Linked DNA regions of Homo sapiens: region 2 is linked to region 1. The links come from fine-mapping of genetic effects on gene expression. A gene starts in region 1. The other region holds a variant in brackets. All regions are shown on one strand. Distances are from middle to middle.

The links. PIP is the estimated chance that this variant, and not a neighbour inherited with it, causes the effect. A credible set is the group of variants that fine-mapping cannot tell apart.
Region 2: its variant is the best candidate, but not a certain one, in a credible set for the expression of PDE6C in subcutaneous fat (GTEx, PIP 0.80).

Annotation. Positions count from the first base shown.
Region 1 is chr10:93,605,972-93,616,108 of GRCh38, forward strand. It overlaps PDE6C (phosphodiesterase 6C), which reads left to right and starts at 6,566. Exons shown (of 22, transcript NM_006204.4): 1 at 6,566-7,234. The coding sequence starts at 6,755.
Region 2 is chr10:93,653,532-93,661,531 of GRCh38, forward strand. It overlaps PDE6C (phosphodiesterase 6C), which reads left to right. Exons shown (of 22, transcript NM_006204.4): 16 at 2,229-2,329; 17 at 5,370-5,477; 18 at 5,573-5,636. Among named protein-coding and RNA genes, the nearest start is that of PDE6C, 45 kb to the left of the region's middle. The variant G/A (reference allele first, on the strand shown) is at 4,347.

The sequences.
Region 1 (10,137 bases):
TCATGTTAAAAATTTATTCTAAGTGATCTGTTTGGTAAGTTTAAATTTTAAGATATGTCATTTTCCATCCTATTTAATAAATGGTGCTGGGAAAATTGGCTAAATATATGCAGAAGAATGAAACTTGACCCCTACCTCTCACCAGCTACAAAAACTGACTCAAGATGGATTAAAGACTTAAATGTAAGACTTCAAACTATAAAAATCCTAGAAGAAAACCTAGGAAACACTCTTCTGAACATCAGCCTAGGCAAAGAATTTATGACTAAGTCCTCAAAAGAAAACACGACAAAAACAAAAATTGACACGTGGGACCTAATTAAACTAAAGAGCTTCTGCACAGCAAAAGACACTATCAACAGAGTAAACAGACACTCTACGAAATGGGAGAAAATATTAGCAAACTATGCATCTGACAAAGGACTAATATCTAGAATCTATAAAAAACAAATCAACAAGAAGAAAACAAATTACCCCATTAAAAAGTGGGCAAAGGACAGGGACAGGTATTTCTCAAAAGAAGACATACAAGCAGCCAACAAACATATGAAAAAATGTTCAACATCACTAATCATTAGAGAAATGCAAATCAAAACCTTTCGCACCAGACAGTATGGCTGTTATTAAAAAGTCAAAAAATAGCAGATGTTGGTAAGGTTGTGGAGAAAAAGGAACACTCATATGCTGTTGGTGGGATTGTAAATTGGTTCAGTCCCTCCGGAAAACAGTGTTGAGATTTCTCAAAGAACTAACAATAGAACTCCCATTTGACCCAGCAATCCCATTACTGGGTGTCTATCCAGTAGAAACCCAAAAGAAAATAGATCATGCTACCTAAAAGACACCTGCACTCACAAGTTTATCACAGCACTATTCACAATAGCAAAGACATGGAATCAACCCAGGTGCCCATCAGCGGTGAACTGGGTAAAGAAAATGTGGTACATATGCACCAATGGAATACTATGCAGCCATACAAAAAACAAAATCATGTCCTATGCAGCAACATGGATGCAGCTGGAGGCCATTATCCTAAGTGAATTAATGCAGGAACAGAAAACCAAATACCACATGTTCTTACTTATAAGTGAGAGCTAAACATTGAGTATACATGGACACAATGATGGGAACAATAGGCACTGGGGCCTCCACAAGGACAAAGGAAAGGGTTGAAAAACTACGTATTGAGTACTATGCTCCCTATCTGGGTGATGGGTTCAACTGAAGCTCAAACCTCAGCATCATGCAATATACCCATATAAAAACCTACACGTGTACCACCTGAATCAGACATTTTAAAAAATAAAATATGTTATTTTCTGAAATTGATTTTGTTTTTTTCAGTGCCTAGTAGCAGACAGCCAATAAGAGACACAAAGATCTTGCTAACACTGGCAAGAAGCTCTGCAAAGAACTATCCCAAGAGGAAGAGCTATGGAAATCACAGGACTTCATCAAGAACAAGAAAGAAAGAAAAGGCTATTGGTGTGTGTGCTAAAAGGAGGCTTCTAATATTACCCATTTAAAAATCTTTGATAAAATGTCATTTGTCTTAGTTCAGGTGGCTATAACAAAGTGTCATAGAAGGAGTGGCTCATAGTTCTGGAAGCTGGAGGTCTGAGGTCAGGGTGCCAGCATGGTCAGGTTCAGTGATGGCCATCTTCCTCTTCCAGGTCACAGACAGCCATCTTCTCCTGGTATCCTCACATGGAAGAAAGAGGGCTGGAGAGCTCTCTGGGGGCCCTTTAATAAGGGCACTAATACCACTTGTGAGGGTTCCATCCTCATGACCTAGTCACATCCTGAAGGCCATACCGTCTAATACCATCACATTAGAGGTTAGGATTTCAACAGATGAGTTTTAGGGGAATACAAACGTTCAGTCCATAACTTCGCTCAACACTCAAAGTAGTTAACAGTGACCCCTTCTCTTGTGTGCTTTTTCTAACTAATCAATTGCCTCGTCCTGTCAATTGTCATGACACATTTGCTGGATTGTGTCTCACATTTGTCCTTTTCTTTTTCATTCCCAAGCAACTTCACCCATAGACTGCAGAGATAACCTCAAAATCTTTGTTTATGAATGACTTAATTTCTTTATTACATAAAGTATATATGTTCATTGTAGATGCTTTACAAAAATCAGGTAAGCAAAAAAGAAGAAAAAAATTAATGTCTTGAATCCCACCACTTTGAAATAACTTTTTTTTTCTGAGATAGGTTCTTGTTCAGTCGCCCAGGTTGGAGTGCGGTGGTGCGATCACAGCTCCCTGCAGCCTCTACCTCCTGATCTCAAGCCATCCCCCCATCTCAGTCCCAGTCTCAGCTGAGACTACAGGCATGTGCCACCAAGCCCAGCTAATTTTTGTAATTTTTTGTAGGGCGGGGTTTCACCATGTTGCCTAGGCTGCTGTCAGACTCCTGAGTTCAAGTAATTTGCCTGTCTCGGCCTCCCAAAGTGCTGGGATTATAGGCATGAGCCACTGTGTCCTGCCTTGAAATAATTTCACTTAATATTTTGGTATATATACCTCTGTCTGTGCATATTAATGGAATTATGCTGCAATACTGTTTGTAATTAACTGCATATCATAAATATTTTTTCATGTCAATAGACTTTAACAATATTATTAGGTTGGTACAAAAGTAATTGCGGTTTTTGCCACTAAAAGTAATGGGGAAAATCGCTATTATTTTTGTACCAACCTAATAGCTGCGTAGCTTTCTATTTTACAGATCTAATACCATTTATTTACTCAACCTCCTACTATTAAGTGTCTAGGCTATTTCTGATCTTTTACTTTTATACCCACACTCATGGTAAGCACCCTTGCAACTATATTAATCACATACATTCTTAATTATTTCTCTAAGATGAATTCATAAAAGCAGAATTGTGGGGTCAAAGCCTATACACATTTTTAGGTTGTTTGATAATAAGCCAAATGCAATAAAGTATCTTAATCTGTATCCCAATGTCCAGTATTCTGTTTTCCTCCAACTTATCTTCCTCCTTAAGTTTGTAAAGAAGAACACTAATAATGTTGCCTCCCACTTCAAAAATTGTCCAGGATTCAAAATCCTCAGTCTAGGCTTTGAAGCCCTTCTAATCTGGGCCCGGCCCACCTTTTCAGGGTCACCTCTCACTGTCCTCCCTGTATTACCCTACACCCCATGCTATTGCTTCTGAACACTCTTGATTTCTACCCTGTCTTCAGCCACACTAGATATGATCCCTTTCGTGAACTCCGATAGCCATGTACATGTGCCTCACTTCCAGCATTAATTGTATTCTGTTCTATGTCTCATGGGCTTTTTACGCACTAGTCTTACCTCCCTTCCCACACCACAAGTGCTTGTAATGCTGGGACCACCCCCTGAGTCCCCGACAGTAGAAGTGTAACTGTCAGAATTGTCTTGGTGATGCTGCAGTAACAACAACCCTCAGGTCTCCGAGGCTGAAAACAAGACAAGTTTATTTCTCATCATGCTACATGTCCATCTCGGGTCATCCAGGGGCCTCTGTTACATGACATCCTCACTCTGGGATTCAGGGGCCCTTTCATCTGAAACTGATGTGGCAGCAGAGGGAACAGAGACCTGGAGAGCCTCCCGTTGGCAATTAATTGTTCCTGTCTGAAAGTGATATTTCTGCCCACAAACCATTTGTTAAAATCAGTCACATGGCTGTACCAGAGGGAGGAAGAGTAATCTTCCCATGTAACTGGGAGAAGGAAACAATCATATAATATAAGGGGAACTTGAAGTCTCTATCACAATAGCTAGAATGGTGCCTTGCTTGTAACAGACAATCAATAGACAAATGTTGAAAGAATGAACAAATGAGGCCAGGTGAAGTGGCTCACACCTGTAATCCCAGCACTTTGGGAGGCCAAGGAGGGCAGATTACCTAAAGAGTTCGAGACCAGCCTGGCCAACATGGTGAAACCTTGTCTCTACTAAAAATACAAAAAAATTAGCCAGGTATGGTGGCATGCACCTGTAATCCCAGCTACTCCGGAGGCTGAGGCAAGAGATTCGCTTGAACCCGGGAGGCGGAGGTTGCAGTAAGCCAAGATCGCGCCTGGGCAATAGAGGGAGACTCCATCTCAAAAAAACAAAAAAGAAAGAAAGAATGAACAAATGAATGAATCTCTAACTAGTTATAAAAACAAAAGAATGCTGACTATAATAGGATGTTTCTTTTTCAAATTAATATTCACTTTTATAAGATTATGAAAGATGGGCCGGGCACGGTGGCTCATACCTGTAATCCCAGCACTTTGGGAGGCCGAGGCGGGTGGATCACGAGGTCAGGAGATCAAGATCATCCTGGCTAACACAGTGAAACCCCGTCTCTACTAAAAATACAAAAAATTAGCCGGGCATGGTGGCAGGAGCCTGTAGTCCCAGCTACTCGGGAGGCTGAGGCAGGAGAATGGCATGAACCCAGGAGGCAGAGGTTGCAGTGAGCCGAGATCGCACCACTGCACTCTAGCCTGGGCAATAGAGCAAGACTCTGTCTCAAAAAAAAAAAAAAAAAGATTATGAAAGTTGAACATATATGGGCATTTTGTTTTTTCTTTTTCTATTAAGTATAAGTCTGTATATGAAATGCAAATATGTGTTTTTCCCTCTCTGTTTCAAGAGGGAAGGATGAAACCAGGAAATCGTGAGCACACCACATACTTACAGGAGAAGTAGGAACTGTACCATGAGTCACACAAAATAACTAGGTAAAAAAGAGTGTCCAAAATTGTTAGATAAGGAAGATGGTCCCATAGGAGGGGTGACTCAGTTGACTCAACTCTCTCCTGGGAAATACACTTCTGCATTATCCTATTTATAATAACAGGGTGTTATGAAGTAAATAGTCACCCAAAGAGGAACCTCCTGAGAGTAGAGTTGAGTGTGACATAGGACAGTCCAAGAAAATATGTGCACCTGACAAGGTGCTTTGAGGTAGCAGGTGAAGCTCAATCACAAGAAGTGGCATAACTCAACAAATGACTCTTTCTGTACCCCTGGGAAAACCATGTTTCCCACCAAGAATCTCTCAATTCATGACAGGGAATGTGCAACCTCAACGGATCTCTCTTTCTTTTGTGACTATTAAGATTACTATCTCTCAGGCTGACACAGGTGGATCACCTGAGGTTGGGAGTTCAAGACTAGCCTGGCCAACATGGTGAAACCCCATCTCTACCAAAAATACAAAAATTAGCTGGGCGTGGTGGCACCCACCTGTAGTCCCAGCTACTCGGGAGGCTGAGGCAGGAGAATCACTTGAACCTAGGAGACGGAGGTTGCAGTGAGCTGAGATCGCACCACTGCACTCCAGCCTGGCAATAGAGCGAGACTCAGTCTCAAAAAAAAAAAAAAAAAAAAAGAAAAAGATTACTATCTAGAGAGGTAAATCTTAGAGAACTCAATGAAACTCATAGGGTTTCTATTTTTGAAGCAAACTTAAATGTGGGTGTAACAATAATTTTTAGAGTCACTGTAACATGTGTGTGTTTTCCACTTAAGAGAATTTGTCATATTAGGTTTGTAGCTTTATTGAAGTGTTTAAAACACCTTGACTAAGTTTGAAACCAACATTTAAGTATCGAAGGCAATTGGTTCATGAATTAATAGTTTGAATTATTAGTTGCATAATAGTGTTTAAATATTTGAGGAAATGTGTTTAATAGATGTAAAAGCTTAGTAAAGTGAACATTAAACAAAACTAAGTAGTGGTAAGTGTTCTTTCTATGCCAGTAGCCCCTGAGACGTTAAGGATCCTAGCAACAGACAAGATATCTATCATCTAGTAGATTTAGTAGACTGTATGTTGTAGCAAAATCGCATGACCTCTGGCTATTACTATTGAAAACAAAATCCTAACTAAGATACTTAGCAGAAAAACCCAGCCAGCAACTATGTAGGTTACCTTTTGTAATTACAGTCTCTCGACAAGGGTTATTATTCAATTCATGACTTGATTAGGTTTGGATCATTGGCAAATATTTTGCTATGTTCACCTCTTTAGTAATAAGCTTGAGGTTTACTCCTTTAAAACACTTCTGAGGTCAAGCTTTCTGAAGTGACAGGGATTGAGAGGTGAAGGTTCTAGAGAAAGAGGAGGCCAAGCAACCTTGGTGATCAAAAGACTTTTAAGAAAAGGAAAGATTAATATTCACCTTTATGTTGCAGTGATGCAAACTGTTCCATATCTCCCAGATGTTCATTACAGTTGCTATATAAACAAAAAAAATCCAAGCACTTCCGAGGTCTAAATAGTTTTACTTCCTATAGCTATCATACAAGAACGATTCAAAGTGCCAATTGTTGCCAATGTCGTGTCATTCATGGATATGTCAGTGATTCTTCCTTGCTGTGGACAGCAGCCGACATTCAGTTATTTTTCTGGAATAGACACCTCAGCTTGCTACTTGCTGGGCTGATCTAAGATACTCTGAAGATTCGCTAGGGACTTATGAGCTACTAATGCTCAGGGATTTAGTGTCCTGAAGAACTCTTTAATCCTGTGCTTCCTGAATCCCACCCTAAGCCAGGGCCTTCTGTCACATCCCAAGAGTTACAGGCAGTTTGAAAGCTCTGCTTTCTGCTTGACCTTTGGAAGTCCTATGAGGGACCATTTACGGTTTCCTCAGTAATTTCCACCAGGATGAATTTCCTTCTCATCACTCTGCCTCAGGTAGTGCTCTGAAGGTCGTCCTTTCTGAACAAACGCAGCAAAGCAAGCCACACCATGGGTGAGATCAACCAAGTTGCCGTGGAGAAATACCTGGAGGAGAACCCTCAGTTTGCCAAGGAGTACTTTGACAGGAAGTTGCGGGTGGAGGTGCTGGGAGAAATCTTCAAGAACAGCCAGGTGCCAGTCCAGTCCAGCATGTCCTTCTCTGAGCTGACCCAGGTGGAGGAGTCAGCCCTGTGCTTGGAGCTGCTGTGGACCGTGCAGGAGGAGGGGGGCACCCCAGAGCAGGGGGTTCACAGGGCCCTGCAGAGGCTGGCCCACCTGCTCCAGGCTGACCGCTGCAGCATGTTCCTGTGCCGGTCCCGGAACGGCATACCTGAGGTGGCCTCTAGGTTGCTGGATGTCACCCCCACCTCCAAGTTTGAGGACAACCTGGTGGGCCCTGACAAAGAAGTTGTGTTTCCATTGGACATTGGGATAGTGGGTTGGGCTGCTCACACGAAGAAAACTCATAATGTCCCAGATGTGAAAAAGGTAGGTGGCCTTATGACAGTGGGGCAGAGGTCTTGGCAGGGTCAGGGAGGAACAAATGGGAAAGAGAGATAGTGCTATCCTTGTGGCATTAGTTTGGCAATAACCGGGGGAATGTGGGTGGCAGGGAAGAGGATCACCCAGGCCTAGTGTTGCCAAATTTAGCAAATGAAATTTCAAGTTGCCCAGTTGAACTTGAATTTCAGATAAACAATGAATTATTATTTTCTGAAGTATAAGTATGTCCCATGTAAAGTTTGGCATTTTATCAGGTGATCCTACCTGGCCCTGGTGCATTCCACACACCCTCCCTTACGCCTCCTCCAGTGCTCTGGGGGACTTTCCTTCTCAGCAACACCAGCAAAACAAACTACCCCACTAGGGAGATGGGCCAACGTGCCCAGATGCCAAGACTTGTGAACTGCTCCCCATGCCTCTCATTCACAGTCCTTCGAAAACATTCAGGTTTTTTGGATGGATTTGCTAGTAAATCAATTCTTTCATCTATCGACCAAATGTGCAAAGAGAAAAAATGATGCCATTTGAAAGTTCAGATGTTCAAATTTGGAATTCATTACATATGTGAATTTAGGTGATGGTTAAGTGCAATTGACCACTCCCACTGCTCCATAACCCAGATCTTTCAAGAATGAATTCCAATCAAGTAAGTGGGACATTTGGACCCTCTTGAAGACCAACAGCATACTGCACAAATACAAGGCATTGAGATGCCCCTTATAGAAATAGAAAAACTTTATTCTTACCATTAGAGTACATGTTCATTTTTAAACAATTATAAGATACAAATAAACCAGAGGAGGAAATGCTAATCACCCATCATCCCTCCCCTCAGCAATAATCAAGGGTACCAGCTTGGAGATTCTCCTGGCAGCTCCTTCTCTACACATGTGGTCCATTATTACAGTTTACCATTAACAAAAAGGGAAAAGTGGATTATGATGGAACAGAGTTGAATGGGAACAACTTGTGAAATGCTTTCTGTGCAGGGGTGTATAGGGCAGCTGGAGAGGCAGGAGGATAATCTCCTAAATGCCTCCTGAAGCTGATTATAGGGGGAGGGTCACACGGACCCAAGAGGTGTGGAAGTCATCAAACACGAGTGACTCTCTGCAAACAACCACAGAACACCGCTCAGGTGCAAGGGTTACCATGGGGCCTGGTAGGGCTTCAGTCCTGAATAATTCCTCCTTTCAGTAAGTTTAAGCTGGGTTAAGTTTGCTTTTGAGCCTGACTGCAGCTGCTTCAAGTGTCTAAATGGATGCTCATCCTTAGGGCAAAGTTCTCTAGACAACCAACTGGAAGGCAATGTCTGCACATCCTGAGGTTTTTCTCATGGGAATACGCTCCTTGAGGGTCCCCAACTGAGCCCATCCCTGCTAGCACATCAAACTTGAAAAAGTGACATTCAGCAATTTTTTGAAAGGCTTTTAAAGAAGAGATGGGTAAAATGATTTCTGCTGTTATACTTTGATTAGCCCAGTTCTCTGTGGTGAGAAGGAAATAAGAGCATGGAGCTGCTTGGAGGTGGTTTTGGTCTGCGGCTGTCCATGGTGAGCATCACGGCATGGACGGAGCACTTCATCTGGGAGTGGGGAGTCTCTCCTCTCTTCTCTGGAGGACTCCTGGCTGTTCTGGGTGGGACACAGAGAAATGTGTGTTGAAGACAGATACGGTTCTGTGCTCACGAGAAAGAGACCTCATTGGTTCTTCATTTCAACTGCTTCTTCACATTTTTTTCTCTCTAGAGTGGGGATTCCAACTCTGGCTGTACATTAAAACCATATTAAGCTGTGTGCAGTGGCTCACGCCTGTAATCCCAGCATTTTGGGAGGCCACGGCGGGTGGATGGCTTAAGCCCAGGAGTTCGAGACCAGGCTGGCCAACATGGGAAACCCCCGTCTCTACCAAAAATACAAAAATAAGCCAGGCATGGTGGTGTGTGCCTGGAGTCCCAGCTACTTGGAAGGTTGAGATGGGAGGATGGCCTGAGTCTGGGAGGCCAAGGCTGCAGTGAGCTGTGTTCACACACTGCACTCCAGCCTGGGTGACAGAATGAAACCCTGTCTCAAAAAATAAACACAATCCACAAAACCATATTGGTGGCTTTATTGTTACAGCGGACTCTCAAAGATTAGAATTCAGGCATTAGTATTTTTATTTTATTATTTATTTATTTTTGAGACAGTCTTGCTCCATCACCCAGGCTGGAGTGCGATGGCGCTATCTTGGCTCACTGCAACCTCTGCCTCCCGGGTTCAAGCAATTATCCTGCCTCAGCATCCTGAGTAGCTGGGACTACAGAGGTGCGCCACTATGCCTGGCTAATTTTTGTATTTTTAGTAGAAACGGGGTTTCACCATGTTGGCCAGGCTGGTACTGAACTCCTGACCTCAGGTGATCCACCTGTCTCGGACTTTCAAAGTGCTGGGATTACAGGCGTGAGCCACTGCGCCCGGCCCAGGCATTGGTATTTTTAAAAAGCTCCCCCAGCTACTTCTAATATGCAGCCAATGTTGAAAACCACTGGTCTCTTGGGTAAGCAGATACAGGAGGAGGAAGTGAATTTCAAATCAGCTGTGGAATATTAGAGATGGAAGGGGCTTATGAAGTCTTTAGCCCAACTCTGTCCTATGGAGGACAGGAAGTTGAGGCCATAGGAGTTGTATATCCCCCGGGTCCATGGTGTGTGTCTGTGGATGAGGAGGGTTGGAACGGAGGTGGCTGAGTATGTGTCCAGTGCTGTTTGCCTACCTTACACCCCTGCAGTTTCACTTGCTTTAGCCGCTGCAGTAAGATTTGCAACGGGAAAGGAAGTAGAAACCAATGTTTCAAATGAAATATCTGATTAATTCTTCCTCTTTTCATTGCACTTGACAATTTAAACA
Region 2 (8,000 bases), 46 kb after region 1:
TATTTGGGAGGCTGAGGCAGGAGAATCGCTTGAACCCAGGAGGCAGAGGCTGAAGTGAGCTGAGATTGTGCCACTGCACTCCAGCCTGGGCAACAGAGTGAGACTCCATCTCAAAAAAAAACAAAAACAAAAACAAAAACAAAAACAAAAAAAAACATTGATTTTGATCCAGATAATCTCTCTTTTGTTTTTGTAATTTAGACTGGTCAACACCCATTGCTTCATTCTAGCTATTTTAAAAGTTTAACTATAGTTGCTATGATGAACTCATTATGTTGACAAAACAAATCACAATTTTCCCTTCTATTACTTATATATGCTTTGTAAAACACCACTTTTCTTGTCCTAGAAAATGTTATAAAAAGATGACTTAAGGGAAGATTTATATAAGGCATAGTGTAGTGTCTAAAACTTGAGTTCTTGTCCAATTATTGCTTTCTAATATTTCAATCTTCTGAAATGACTGAGCCATATTTGGTCTTAGGTTTGCAATTCTATTTCTACCAGGAGCTAGCCTCATAACTTTACGTAATAATAATAATGATACAACAATAAATTTTAACAGCGATTTACAGTTTTAAAATGCATTCACAGTTGTCATTTCATTTGATTCAGCATTCCACAGATATTAATTGAGCATAGACTAAGTGCTAGGCAGTTAGGCAGGGCAGCTGTTATTATGCCCATATGAGAAAACAAATACAGATGTTAAGTGAAGTCTCTAGGATTATACCACTGCCAAAGTGGGGAAGCCAGGAAATGAACCTGGGTTCCCTCTTGAGAGGTAATGTAGTGTGGTGCAGAGATTAGGAGCACAGACTCTGGAACCATGCTGCACTGGCTTAGACACCAGTTCTGCCACATTCTAGCTGTTTAACCTCGGGCAAGTTACTTCACCTCTCTGTGCTGGGGTCTGTTGTGAAGAGATTAAGAATATTCACAAAGCACTTAGAGCCTGGTAGGTAGTAAGAACTAAGTAAGTGTTTACTGTTATTATTTGGTGTTCAGGACAGTATTGTTTTTGGCATTATGCTACTTCTCTCTTTATATAGTTTGATAGACTATCTCCTCTTTCTTTCCAGTGGAGTTTTTCTGTATTTTGTAACTGTCAAATTCATTTGGCAAAATCACTATCTATCTGTCATTTGGCCTGTATGACTAAAATGGTCTATTTGGAATAACTGGGCTTTAAGAAACCACCCCCAGCTTATATACTCATTTTCTTTCTTTCTTTCTTTCTTTCTTTCTTTCTTTCTTTCTTTCTTTCTTTCTTTCTTTCTTTTTTTTTTTTTTTGAAACAGGGTCTCTCTCTGTCACCCAAGCTGGAGTGCAATGGCACAGTCTCAGTTCACTGCAACCTCCAGTCCCCAGCGTTAAGCAATCCTACCACCTTGGCCTCCTGAGTAGGTGGGACCCCAGGCACATACCACCACACCCAGCTATTTTTGTATTTCCATATTTTTAGTAGAGACAGGAGTCTCACCATGTTGCCCAGGCTGGTCTTGAACTCCTGAGCTCAAGCCATCTACCCACCTCCGCCTCCCAAAGTGCTACAAGCATGAGCCACCATGCTCGGCCTATATTCTCATTTTCTAGAATGCTAAGAAATGAAGCTGATCCTTATGTGAAGAGATGTAGTGAGAAACTCTTTGAAGAAAGGTCTAGTTAAGTCTTGGTAAAATAGAATTGCATGAAAACATTTTCAGGATAATGTGGAAGGATTTCATTATTTTTTCCTACATATACACGAATATGAGTGTAATTTGCAATTTCTGAAAGACCAGTGGTTTCTATGATCACTCTAAAATTACCTGGTAGATAAAGTAACATGTCTGACAGTTGGACTTCTCCCAGAAATTCTTTATTAAAGCTTCTCAATTAATACAAGCACATTTTTAATCTATTGTTATTTATTTTAATGGTCCTAGAAGAAAACATTTATTTACTCCAAAAAGTTAAACACTGATTACATGAATATTGGCTAACAGTATCTATTTTTATAGTTTAAATTAAATTATCTTACTTAAAGTATAGTAGAGGGGTTTGCTTAGTCCATGAGATAAAAACTAAAAGCAAGCCAAAAAAAAAAAAAAAAAAGGAAGGAAAACAAAAAAAAAACAAACAAAAAAGTGTTGAAAGACTTTTAGATTTTCTTCTTGTTAAGCATAGTTTCATTTGTTCAGAGGCAAATTATTGATAGCATTTTATTGTGAATTTTCATCTTACAGAGTTTAAACATCTTCCAGAACCTAAATAAGCGGCAGTTTGAAACAGTTATTCATTTGTTCGAGGTCGCAATAATAGCAACTGACCTGGCTTTATATTTCAAGTAAGTACATAACTCTGCACAGTGGAATGCCCTATACTCTGTGTGGTTTTACCTTCCATAAATTATCTGTTGCATTAATGTTAAAAGGCATTTATTCACACACATACACACACACAGACACACACACACACATACACACAAAATTTGCTCTCCTTTTGGATTACCAAGTAGAGTATCTTCAAGACAGATGCCTGCCAGTAAATTTACTAGACCTCTGGGAACATATTTTAAAAACATAAGCTCCTAATATTAAGTAGGTTGCTCTCCGAACAGGTTTGAATTGCAGAATGTGCAGCCAAGTTTGTGCCTTGTCAAAAGAGTGAAGCCAAGAGACCTCTCAAGGTGGCTTTTTGTCCAGGTGAATTCTCTATGGTCCAGAATCTGGCATTTTAATGTTTCAGCCTCAGAAATTTAATTCTGTCAAAGTCTGGGAGCTGAACAATTTTGATGGCATTGACACACATTAACCAAACTTACAAAACTGAGTCATACGTAACAGAGAGCCAGCCTATTTACAACAGTAATATTGCCAAGGAGACCAGATACTCCCAGTATCTCCACATTTTCTCATAAGTGAACTATAAAGTTGCTTGATGAAAATGGGTTAGAACAAGATGAACTAGTTATAGGATGGAAATATTCAGTGGCTTGGGCATTGTCAAATTATGCCTTTCTGATCCTTCACTAAATATTTATTTATTATTTATTATTATTATTATATGTATTATTATACAGGTCTCACTCTGTCACCTGGGCTGGAGTGCAGTGGCACAACCTCGGGTCACTGCAATCTCGGCCTCCAAGGTTCAAGCGATTCTCCTGCCTCAGCCTCCTGAGTAGCTGGGACTTCAGTCTCCCACCACCACATCTGGCTAATTTTTATATTTTTAGTAGAGATGGGTTTCACCATGTTGGCCAGGCTGGTCTTGAACTCCCGACCTCAACTGATCTGCCCACCTGGCCCTCCCAAAGTGCTGGGATTACAGGTGTGAGCCGTTGCACTGGGCCTGAATATTTAATTATTAAATAGTTCAATGTGAAGACAAATACTAAGAATAATAAAATGGATATCCAAATATCTATAGCCTAAATTTAACAAATGCGAAATTTTGCCATATTTGCCTCAGATTTTGCTTTATAAGGAGAAAAAAACTAGTGATGCAATTGAGGTATTCCACCCCTACTCCACTATGAAAAATCCCTTCCCTTCTTCCACAAAGATATCACCGTCTGACGTTGATGTGTATTCATAATTTCCATCCATGTTTTTATATGGTATTGTTGTGTGTTGTTTTTTTTGTTTGGTTTCTTGGTTTTTTTGCGACGGAGTCTCACTCTGTCACCAGGCTGGAGTGCAGTGGCGCAATCTCGGCTCACTGTAATCTCTGCCTCCTGGGTTCAAGTGATTCTTCTGCCTCAGCCTCCAGAGTAGCTAGGACTACAGGCACACGTCACCACGCCTGGCTAATTTTTTTTTTTTTTTTTTTTTTTTTTTTGTATTTTAGTAGAGATGGGGTTTCACCATGTTGGCCAGGATGGTCTCTCTATCTCCTGACCTCGTGATCCACCCACCTTGGCCTCCCAAAATGCTGGGATTAGAGGCGTGAGCCACCTCGCCCAACCTGTTGTGTGTTTTCAAATTGTCCATAGGTGGTATCATACTGTCTGTACATACCTTTCTGCAACTTGCTTTATTCATGCAACATTGTGTTTCAAAGATTTATCATTGATAATAAATGGAGCTCCAATGCATCCATTTTAACTGAATAGAGTATTCAACTGTTGAATATTCATAATTAATTTACCCAGTCTTCTATTCATAGACATTTCAATTGTTTCTAATTTTTCATCATTGCCTACAATGCTACCTTGTATGTCCCTGTATATATATATGAGAGTTTCTCTAAGAAATGTAAAAGTGACAATGCTGTAGGATTTGCATGTCTTCAATTTCATGCTACATTACAAAACTGCACTCCTGAGAAGTTGTGCCAGTTAGCACTCCCACACACAGTGT[G/A]CAAGAGTTCCAGCTGAGTGAGGTGGCTCATGCCTGTAATCTCAGCACTTTGGGAGGCCAAGGCAGGAGGATCACTTGAGGCCAGGAATTTGAGACCAGCCTGGGCAACATAGCAAGACTGTCTCTACAAAAAAATTAAAAAATTAGCCAGGCATGCTGGAGCATGCCTGTAGTCCCACCTACTCGGTAGGCTGAAGTGGGAGGATCCCTTAAGCCTAGGAGTTCAAGGTTCCAGTGAGCTAGGATCAAGCTATTTCACTCCAGCCTGAGTGGTAGAGCAAGATTCTGTCTCAAAAAAAAAAAAAAAAAAAAAAAGAAAAAGAAAAAGAAAAGAAAGAAAGAAAGAAAGAAAAAGAAAAATACCACATCTGAAGTACTCTTGAACTCAGCAAATTGAAATTTTATTTTGCTAATATAATGAGTGTGAGATAATATCTTATTGTTCAAATTTGTAGTTTCTTGATTAGTAGTGAGACCAGCTGGACATCCGTGTGTTTTGGGTTCCAACTTTTTGTTGGCTATATGTGTTGTGATATCTTATCATAGTTTGGGGCCTTTATTTTTAGGTTATGGTCTCTTTTCTCATATGTAATTTTGTATTTACTTTCATTTTTAAAGAGACAGGGTCTTGCTTTGTTGCCCAGGCTGGTTTAAAACTCCCGGCTTCAAGCAATCCTCCCACCTTAGTCTCCCAAAGTGCTGGGATTATAGATGTGAGCCACTGCACCCGGCCTTATATGTAACTTTTTCGTTGTAATGTATTCCAAGTTACCTGTTTTGTTTTGTTTTTCCCTCTCTCTCTCTCTCTCTCTCTGTATGGTTTGTGCTTTTTCTGCCTTAAACCCTTTCTGAGCCAAAGTTATACCACCATTCTCTGCTCTCGTATTTTCTGGCCCTGTAGACTTTGCTATGTGGACATCACAATGCAAAGTGGGAACGTGAAATCTGAAAAGCATGTATTTAAGATATTTTTTCTCTCTTTTCATAAGCTAAAATTGTTGCTCACAGCTGTATCTTTTCTAGGAAGAGGACCATGTTTCAAAAAATTGTTGATGCCTGTGAACAAATGCAAACGGAAGAAGAAGCCATCAAATATGTAACTGTTGATCCAACCAAGAAAGAGATTATCATGTAGGTAGTTGAAATTGTATTTCTCTCTTGTTTTTTGTAAAAATAACTTATTTTGTACTTATTTCTATTTTAAAATTTTTTGTTTTCTTCCTAAGGGCAATGATGATGACGGCATGTGACTTGTCTGCTATTACCAAGCCCTGGGAGGTGCAAAGTCAGGTGAGTCCAGTTAAGTTTTCTTTTCTGTCACACTGTCAGGTACTGCCTAGGTCCCATGTAAATGTCCACCTAAAGATCTCAGGCAACCTCAGAATTCTGAAAAATTACAAATATTAGTGAGACAGTAGGCAATTTGATTAGGCCCTAGAATAAAGCAAATAGAAGGAACTTTGGAAGGAGAATTCTTTCTTGAAAGAATTCTTTAACATTGAAACACTGTAAATAATTTATATAAAATTATCCAAGAAATGTCTGAGTTTTTAAATAGAGGAGTGTATTAGCCTGTTCTCATGCTGCTGCTAATAAAGACATACCCGAGACTGGGTAATTTATAAAGGAAAGAGGTTTAATGAACTCACAGTTCCACATGGCTGGGGAGGCCTCACAATCATGGTGGAAGATGAAGGAAGAGCAAAGGGATGTCTTATGTGGTGGCAGGCAAGAGAGAGCGTGTGCAGGGGAACTCCCCTTTATAAAACCATCAGATCTTGTGAGACTTACTTAATATCACTAGAACAGCACGGGAAAGATTTGTCCCCATGATCCAATTACCTCCCACTGGGTCACTCCCATGAATTGGGAATTATGGGAACTACAATTCAAGATGAGATTTGTGTGGGGACATAGCCAAACTATATCAATGAGGTAAGTCAGAACAAGATCAGGATGCATCGTTAGTGTTTTCCTCTATCAAGGGTGTTTTTGCTCCTATAGTCTCTTCTTCAATGTGCTGTGAATTATAAGAAGGCACTGACTGTGAGATGATGTCTAAGGTTGCCTTCCACTGAAGTTCTTCCCCCACCTTGGGGAGGCACTAGTCTACCACTTGCTTTCTTACTAATTGGATGAAAAAACCTTCCTTTTTCCTCCAGTAATTTCTAGGGAAACCCCTAAGCAGAAGAGAGCCCAGAATTAAATGGGTTTAACTATAAAAGTGGGTTGTATCTTTTTAAAAAGATAGAATAATTAGAACTCAGTGTAGGGGAGAAAAAATATCTATTTCTCACCCATCCTAGCTTCATGACTGAGGCCCCTATAACAAAAGACAGATTAACAAGAGAAAAGCGTACACGTTTATTTGTTTTACATGTAATACAGGAGCCTTCGTGAGGAAACAAAGACCCTAAGAAACAGTTAAACTTGTATGTTTTATGCTAGGTTGGATGAATTAGATAGTCATGGAGAAATAGAATTCAACAAAGAGGGTATGATCTAATCGTGAGGCAGCTTAGCAAGGCCGATTTGTTCAGATTCTTCTTGGCATCTTTGTGTCTCTGGCTCCTTTCCTCCAGGAATAGGGAGGGCACCTCTTGAATGAAGGTCTTATGATCTGCTTCAGGGGAAGGTCAGAAAATCCTTACCTGGTTTTATGACCTACTTCAGGGGAGAAGGTCGGGGGAAGGTGAGACTGATCTTCCTGCTGCTTTAGTTTCCTCAAATTCCGTCACCTTAAAATATTTGGGGGCAGGGTGTCCTGAACTCCGTCACCATCAAGTCCAAAACCAAATGCTTCCTCTCCTTCCACCTCGACATGCCTGCTCTTCTTCCTCTGTTCTTTATCGATGAGGTCACCCAAGCTAGAAACCTGGGGTCCTGCTTGAGCTTATCTCCCTCATTTCAAAATCATTTATATCAGCCTCGCTAGTACCTCAGTTCTGACTTTTATCAGAACTATGGTAGCAGCCTCCTAATAGATGCTCACATCAACTCCACAAGTCATCCTCTGACTTGCTGCCAGGATGTCTCTACACAGAGCTCAACTCAGCCATTCTACTCCTTAAAAGGCTCATACTCCCCATTGCCAGAGGTTTCCAACTTCTTTCCCAAAGAAGTAAAGTCTATTTTCTCCCAACAAAACTTGCCCAAAGATCACTTTATAAAAGAGAAAAAAGCAAAGCTACTTTAGCTTTCATCTCTCTTGGTCTCCACCTTCTTGGGCCCTAGAGCACTTCAGGGGAACCCTAGACTCCAAGAGTAAACAGCACTGGCCTAGAGAATCAAATTCAAGCTTCCTGGCAAAATTTACATGGCCTGTCACTGCCTGTCCTCAACTCACACTCCCAGCATCAATTCCCATCACCTTCTCCCATGTCATTGCTTCACACTCTAAGCCTGCACTCACAGAAGCTTTGTACGTTCCATTTTATCTCGGCAAATATTCTTCCCCTCCTCTTTTCCTGGAAAATTACTCTTGTTCTTCACAATACAACATAAATGCCACCTCCTTCCTTCATGAAACTTATCTTTACTCCCTTCTCCCTGACCCATAGCACTTACACTATTATTGTTACAGCACTTACCACACTGTATACATGACTGTCTTCGCTAGACTCTGAACATTTTAAAGAAAAAGATCACCCCTTA